2 linked regions of the Homo sapiens genome follow. The protein of the gene in region 1 interacts with the protein of each later gene in a pairwise test. Each region holds a gene or a part of one and is shown in the gene's direction. Other genes may lie near its edges.

Evidence for each region. The genes of interacting proteins can lie anywhere in the genome.
Region 2: the proteins of MAPK8IP3 (region 1) and RAD51D interact in binary tests that used the Homo sapiens proteins (3 or more experiments, as listed by UniProt).

The regions. Positions count from the first base shown.
Region 1 is NC_000016.10:1,744,956-1,748,705, forward strand, and holds part of MAPK8IP3 (C-Jun-amino-terminal kinase-interacting protein 3), read left to right. Parts: exon of another isoform or gene 1-1,634; coding exon of another isoform or gene 1,635-1,901; intron 1,902-2,073; coding exon 2,074-2,320; intron 2,321-3,288; coding exon 3,289-3,391; intron 3,392-3,646; coding exon 3,647-3,750.
Region 2 is NC_000017.11:35,092,180-35,095,929, reverse strand, and holds the end of RAD51D (DNA repair protein RAD51 homolog 4), read left to right. Parts: 3' UTR 1-3,709; downstream 3,710-3,750. UniProt on the Homo sapiens protein: Involved in the homologous recombination repair (HRR) pathway of double-stranded DNA breaks arising during DNA replication or induced by DNA-damaging agents. Bind to single-stranded DNA (ssDNA) and has DNA-dependent ATPase activity.

The DNA.
Region 1 (3,750 bases):
TTTTTATGTACTGTATTTTCAGTGTTTTAACCAAACAGTTGTGGCTACTCATGGTGAGGAATGACCGCTAAGAGTTTGGGTTCTTTCAGTGCATTTGGAGGTCACTGCTACACGTTGATGTTTAGGAGGTTGAGAGGTTTGCCTTTAGGTAAGTTGTGGCCAGGGGGAGTGTCCCATGGGTAAGTGGTGGCCCTGTAGGGTGACGGAGAGCTAGGGGAGGCGCAATCAGACTGCAGAATTCCCCGCAGCCACCATGAGGGTCAGGAGCAGGCCGGGGACCCAGCGTGGAGGAAGGTGGCCCAGAAGCGTTTGTCTGATGTGCACAGCTACACCCTGCCTGGCCACATGGGGTTCCCTGTTTTCTCTCTGCCGGGTGGTGGCAGAGTCGGTGAGACACCAGGTGCCTGTGACACATTGGGTAGACAGGTTCTTTGAGAACGTCAGCACAGACTTCTTGCATGAGCGGTACTCGCTTCCTCCAGCGTGGGGAGTGACATGAAGAGCAAGGGTTTTCCTTTCAAACTGGGCATAGCTGCAGAGCCACAGGCCGTCTCAGACATTTCTACAAAGCCACTCCGGGAGGCGGGCTGCGCCCGTGTGAGGGCTCTCCCTCGGCACTGCTCATCTTTTGGGGCTGGACATGCATGGCCTGGGCCGCTGGGACGCGGTGGGTGTGGAGCAGCATCCCTGGCTTCCACCCACGAAAGCCAGGAGCACCCCCTTCATTTGTGACCACAAAAATGTCTCTGGACTTTGCAAGCATCCCCTCGGGGCAGTCAGCCCAACTGAGAATAGCTACTATAGAGGAAGGTGTGTCATTTTGAGATTCCTTCTAGAGAAACTTAGGAGCCTGGTAGATGAAGCAGAAATGTGTCCTCTGAGTGAGTGGCCGTGTCCGGTACTGAGAGGCCCCGTGCCCTGAGTCTGGCGGTGACCAGAGAGGCTGGGCAGAGGCAGAGGTCAGCACTGGCCATGACTTCTGGAAGTCCCGTCTGCCCTGGTCACTTAAAGGCCAGTATAAGTCAGCTGTGGAGAGGGCTGGATACCCCCTCGACAGCTCCTCCCTGGGTGAGATCCTTAGCATTAGAGTCCCCCACGGTGCGCCCTCTGAGAGACCACGGGAACCCACCCAGCGGCTGCCTGGGACAGGCACAGGAGCCACCTGGGTGCCTCTGAGGCCTTGCACTTTCCCACACCTCAAGGAGGGCCGGGGGCCACGGGCAAGCTCTGCCATAGCGGGTGATCAGGTCAGCTAAGACGAGAACGTTTGGGGCTCTTTTTCTCCAGCTGGTTCAGTATCTTTGTTAGGAAAGACCATTGGAAAGAATGTTTGTTTCGCATTCCGCATTAGTCACATAGAATGCGCTCCTCCCTAGCGAGCTTCCTGAGGTAGACGGCTGGTTGCGGTTTCTCGTAATCCGGGCTGCCCCCACCCTCCAGAATGTCTTGGTGGCGTCCCTTTCTGTGAGCAGGGATTGTGGTTTCTTTGCGCTTGCTCATGTTCAGGGGTGAGCTCTGGTCCAGTCAAGCCACAGGGTCAGCACCTTCTGGTCACTCCCTGGCCCTGACCTGAGCCCGGGGAGGAACGTGGGGCAGGCGCGGGTGGGCCCAGCCTCGAGCTCTTCAGCACAGTGATGGTGACGGGGCAGCGGTGGCGGCACAGCCAGCCCTTCTTGGGTCCCCAGTCAGAGCCCTCTGCCCTACCTGGGCTGGACTTGTTTCTGAACAGCCACAAGCTACAGGGGGCTGCCGCTGTGTCCCTGGCGAGGCACTGGCCCATTACAAGCAATCGTCTGGGGAGGGCACCAGTGGAAAGCCCCGTTCCAAGCCATTTCAGGAGGGTGGCCCTGCTTCCGAGGAGCCGGAGTCAGTGGCCGGATAAGCAGAGCCACTCGGGAGTGGTGAGGCCCGGAAGGGTTAGCCCGGTGGGCGGCAGAGGAGCTCTGGCCCGCAGGGTGTCGGGCGAGGCAAAGTGCAAAGCATTGGTGCGCGGGGCCTCAGGCAGCCACGGCGGAGCCGCAGGCCAGGGACCTGCAGTGACTCGCTCTCCCTCCTCCCTGTGTTTGGCCTTAGTGTCCACAGGATGAAATGTCCGAGTCAGGCCAGTCCTCGGCGGCCGCCACACCCAGCACCACAGGCACCAAGTCCAACACGCCCACATCCTCCGTGCCCTCGGCCGCCGTCACACCCCTCAACGAGAGCCTGCAGCCCCTGGGGGACTATGGCGTGGGCTCCAAGAACAGCAAGCGTGCCCGGGAGAAGCGCGACAGCCGCAACATGGAAGTACAGGTCACCCAGGAGATGCGCAACGTCAGTATAGGTGGGTGCCCACCTCCGGGACTCTGGGCTCCCTCGGGCAGGAGGCAGGGCTTGGTTTGGGTAGATGTGAAACTAATGCACCAGGCGGGCAGTGCAGGCAGCAGAGACGTGTTCCTCACAGCCCGGAGGCTGGGGTCCAAGATCAAGGCGCTGGCAGGGTAGGTTCCTCCTGCGGCCACTCCTTGGCTTGTAGACACCACCTTCTCCCTGTGTCCTCAACAGGCATCCCCTGGGTGTGTCTGTGTCCTCATCTCCAGCTCCTACAAGGACATAGCCCCATTGGATTAGAGCCACCACGTGACCTCATTTTACCATAATCACCTCTTGAAAGGCCCAGCCTCCAAATACAGTCATGCTAGGGGGTATCTATTAACATATGGATTTGGGGAGACACAACTAAGGCAGTAGCCTGCGTCACCCCACGGCACACAGCCCCACTAACCAGTAACCTGCATCGCCCCACGGCACACAGCCCCACTAACCAGTAACCTGCATCGCCCCACGGCACACAGCCCCACTAACCAGTAACCTGCATCGCCCCACGGCACACAGTCCCACTAACCAGTAGCCTACGTCACCCCATGGCACACAGCCCCACTAACCAGTAACCTGCGTTGCCCCACGGCACACAGGCCAGTGAGGGAAAGAGAAGAGGGGAATGAGGGCCGAGAGGAGGTCCAGCCACTGGCTTGCTTGGACGTGGGATCTCTGGGGACTGGGCTTACTGCTGACACTCCCATGCAGAGAGGCTGCTGCAACCCACCCCGCTCCAGGCCCCGCCTCAGACGTCTACTGTGCTGGGGTTCGACCTCTGCCCAGTCAGCCTGGGAAGAGCTGTTTTCTGATCATCCCCACCTAGCAGGTGGTCCAGCTCCAGCCCACCAGACTCAGGTTCCGAGGGCAGCCGTGAGCAGGGCAGAGGCTGCCAGACCCTCTCCTGACCCCAGGTGCCCCTGTGCTCTCCCCTAGGCATGGGCAGCAGTGACGAGTGGTCTGATGTTCAAGACATTATTGACTCCACGCCAGAGCTGGACATGTGTCCAGAGACCCGCCTGGACCGCACAGGAAGCAGGTACTGGCTCAGCCCAGGCCCTGGGGTCCTGGGGGCTCAGTATTTATCCAAGTCGGTGTCTTTGGTGAAGTCTTCCTCTGCCACCACTGGGAGAACCATCAAGGCTGTGGCCTACCGCCTCCATCCACGACCGGCCTGCAGGGCAGTGTGGGCATTGAATGGCCACGGTGGGAGGTGTTGGAAGAGTCTGCAGACGCAGCCACTCCGGGCTGCCCACTGACTCTGCTCTCTCTCCCGACCTGTGGATCCCAACAGCCCAACCCAGGGCATCGTGAACAAAGCTTTCGGCATCAACACCGACTCCCTGTACCATGAGCTGTCGACGGCAGGGTCTGAGGTCATCGGGGATGTGGACGAAG
Region 2 (3,750 bases), on another chromosome or scaffold:
GTGATTGGCTGAGCCTCAGCAATCTGTTACAAAAGTATACTCCTAAATTAGGTTTTCAGTTAGTTTGCATACTAAGGCTGCAGTTTGTTAAGGGCCCAAGTAAAGCCTCCTCAGGTCAATTTTTTTTTTCTTTTTGAGATGGAGTCTTGCTCTTGCTCAGGCTGGAGTGCAGTGGCGTGATCTCAGCTCACTGCACCTCTGCCTCCCGGGTTCAAGTGATTCTCCTGCCTCAGCCTCCTGAGTAGCTGGGACTACGACTACAGGCGCCTGCCACTATGTCCGGCTAATTTTTTGTATTTTTAGTAGAGATGGGGTTTCATCATGTTGGCCATGGCTGGTCTCGAACTCCTGACCTCAGATGATCTGCCTGCCTCAGCCTCCCAAAGAACTGGGATTATAGGCATGACCCACTGTGACTAGCCCTCAGGCCAAATTTAGCTTTTGTTTGTTTGTTTGAGACGGAGTCTCTGTCACCTAGGCTGGAGTGCAGTGGCATGATCTTGGCTCACTGCAACCTCTGCTTCCTGGGTTCAAGCAATTCTGCCGCAGCCTCCCGAGTAGCTGGGATTACAAGCATGCGCCCCCATCCCCGGCTCTTTTTGTATTTTTAGTAGAGATGGGGTTTCACCATGTTGGCCAGACTGGTCTCAAACTCCTGACCTCAGGTGATTCACCTGCCTCTGCCTCCCAAAGTGCCTGGATTACAGGCGTGAGACACCACACCCGACCCCAAATTTAATTTAACAAAGGACTAACTCAGAACTAACTTCCAACCAAAGCTGACTCACCTCAAATCTCATTGGTGCAGAATTGCTTCATACACCCATGTGTAATACAGTAACTGGCAAGAAAAAGGGACTGCTGTGATTGACTCAAACCAACTAGGAAATAGCCCTGGAGCTGAGGCTGGGGACAGGCTTTCCTGAAGCACATGCTGGAGCCACTGAAAGAAAAATGGGAGTTCTCCTTTCTACTAGAAAGGAGAGTGTGTGGATGAACTGGATGCTGGGTGGGCAGCCTCTCACTAGTACTTACGGTAGTACCAAAGACGAGTTAATCAAGGCTCTATTATGTATCCTTAGGCCCTTGATGCATGTCTCATTATGACCTTAGGACAGCCTTGTGGCAGAGGGAATGATTCCATTTAATAGACAGTAAATGGGATCTCAGTGAGGTTAAGGACATAAAGCTAATAAGTGGCAGCACGGGAATCCAGACACATGTCTGCCTGATACCAAACCCATTTTTTCCCATCTGCACGCTGCCTTCTGCTGTAAATATGTAAATGTTTCCACAAAATTCTTTTTCATACTTTGCCCTGATAGCAGCAGGGGCTGCACATCCCAACCTCTTTTCAGCTTAGCTCACCATAAAAAGCGGGATCAGAGATCTACTTCTCAGCTCTTTCTGATTTCCCCCAGGGAAGTTACAAAAGAATGACAAAAACTTGGAGAAGGCAGATATCATTAGTATTAAAGAGAACTGGAGGTTTAGGGGGAAATAAAGCTGAATAAAAAACAGCAGGGCTGGCTGAGCGTGGTGGCTCACGCCTGTCATCTCAGCGCTCTGGGAGGCTGAGGTGGGTGGATCATTTGAAATCAGAAGTTCGAGACCAGCTTGGCCAACATGGCGAAACCCCATTTCTACTAAAAATACAAAAATTAGCCGGGCGTGGTGGCGGGTGCCTGTAGTTCCAGCTACTCAGAAGGCTGAGGCAGGAGAATCGCTTGAACCCGGGTGGTGGAAGTTGCAGTGAGCCAAGATCACACTACTGCACTCCAGTCTGGGTGACGGAACAAGACTCCATCTCAAAAAAACAAAACAAAACAGGGCCTATGCATCCCTGAGATGTGAAGCAGGGGGAGATAAGGGATTTAGATGTATATCCTACTAGGTTTTTGCTGTGTTCTGCCATGCAGTTGTCTGGGCAGGATTTATTTATATTTTAATTTATTTCAGGGGCCATGCTAATCATCTTTGTATTGTTCCAATTTTAGTGTATGTGCTGCTGAAGCAAGCACTGGGTAAGGTTTAAACTGTCTAGTTCTGTGTGCTGGGGTTTGGCATTGGAGAAGGCTCTGTGATGCATAGACCTTAAATTAGAGTTAGGTATATTATTAATCCAAAGTGATCCTGAATGCTTTCTATCATTTTTTTCTTGTCCTATTGCACTGGCTAAACTGACTTTTAGTACTACACAGAATAGAAGCAACAATAACAATCATCCTTGTCTTGTTCCTAACTTTAGTGGACTATTTACAATATTTTACTGAGTTAGATGCCTTAGGTTCCACGTAGCTGCTCTTTATGAAAGACCTCACTGGGTTACCCTTCAGTCTTGGAGGAGTCTGGGTATTGGCCATGACATTTGCCATGAATGATGGAGTTCTCTCTGCCAGGTCCTCATGCCCTGGAGCTGTACGGCTGCACTTCAGCTGCTGCACATTTGACTTTTTGAGTAGCCCTTGAATCTCTGCTCTTCCTTGGCCTCTCTATAGTTTTTGGTATAATAGCCTCAGCTTAAGTTTGAGTTTTGTAGGAAAACAATGGGCCTGTGCTGACAAAGATACAAAGTCAAGGAACAGGATTTTTTATATCTCAACTAACTTGGTCCTAGCTTTGACATTTACTTGCCATATAACAATGGATGAATAACAGTCTCTTTAAGCCTTAGTTTCATCCACCGTGAAATGGGAAAAATAATATCTGTTTCATAGAGTTGTTTTAGGATCATGTAACTTATGTAAAACACTGAATAGTTTTCCAGGCATGATATAGGCACTCAATCTCATATTATGAATAAGCTTATGATGCATGGGGGATACTGATGACAGCTTTCTTCTGTCCAGGCAGGCCCAGCTACATGGTGGTATGACCAGTGCAGTCACACAGCCCCATGCTTAGCAGGGCTCTGCACTTAGTTTAATGCTCTGCTGTTGCCATCTTGAAGTTCTTAATTTTTAAACAAGCATCCCATATTTTGCACTGTTTCTTGCAAACAGTGTAGCCAGTTCTGTCTCCAGGAATGGATCCAGCACTAGTACTGGCCCTTCTCTTTGGGAAACATCCTTCCATTGATTTCTTAGGGAGTAAATCCCTTGAAGAGTAACCTCCCATAGAAAAATTAGGGTTAGCACCCTGTGTATGTTTATCTCTAACTGTTCCATTCTCAGTAACCTACACATCCTCTCTCATTAAAAAAACAAAACAAAACAAAAAACACTTTATATTTTACAGAAGCTATTAGATCCAGAGAGGTTGGTAGGGGTGCTGGTGAAATGGAATGGTGATTTGGGATTTTGGAATCAGGAAAAAGATCTAAGTTCAAAACCCTGCTAGTCCCTTTCTGGCCGAGTTACTTGGACAAGGTAATGTCTCTGTCCTACTGGTAAAGTGTATGTTGCAGGGGAATTACATTCTTTGTTGGTAAAATATATGCCTCAGGGGAATTAAACAGATAATTTATGTAAAGTGCCTTTCACAGAGAGTCTGGCACATAGTAGGTGGTCGGTCACTATTAATTCTTCCAGCTCTTGCCAGAAATAACTAAAATCAGGGCACTAGGACTTCCAAGCCGTGCTGCTACTAATAAAAGAAATAATATGATTTATTTTTTCACAACTGTTTGGGGAAAGGCCTGTGCTTCATAAATATGCGTTGGAAAGTACTTAGCAAATGAGTAGAAATAATAAAAATATGTCCAAGTAAACAGCTCCTATAAATATGTCACTTGGTAGACAAATTAGTGTT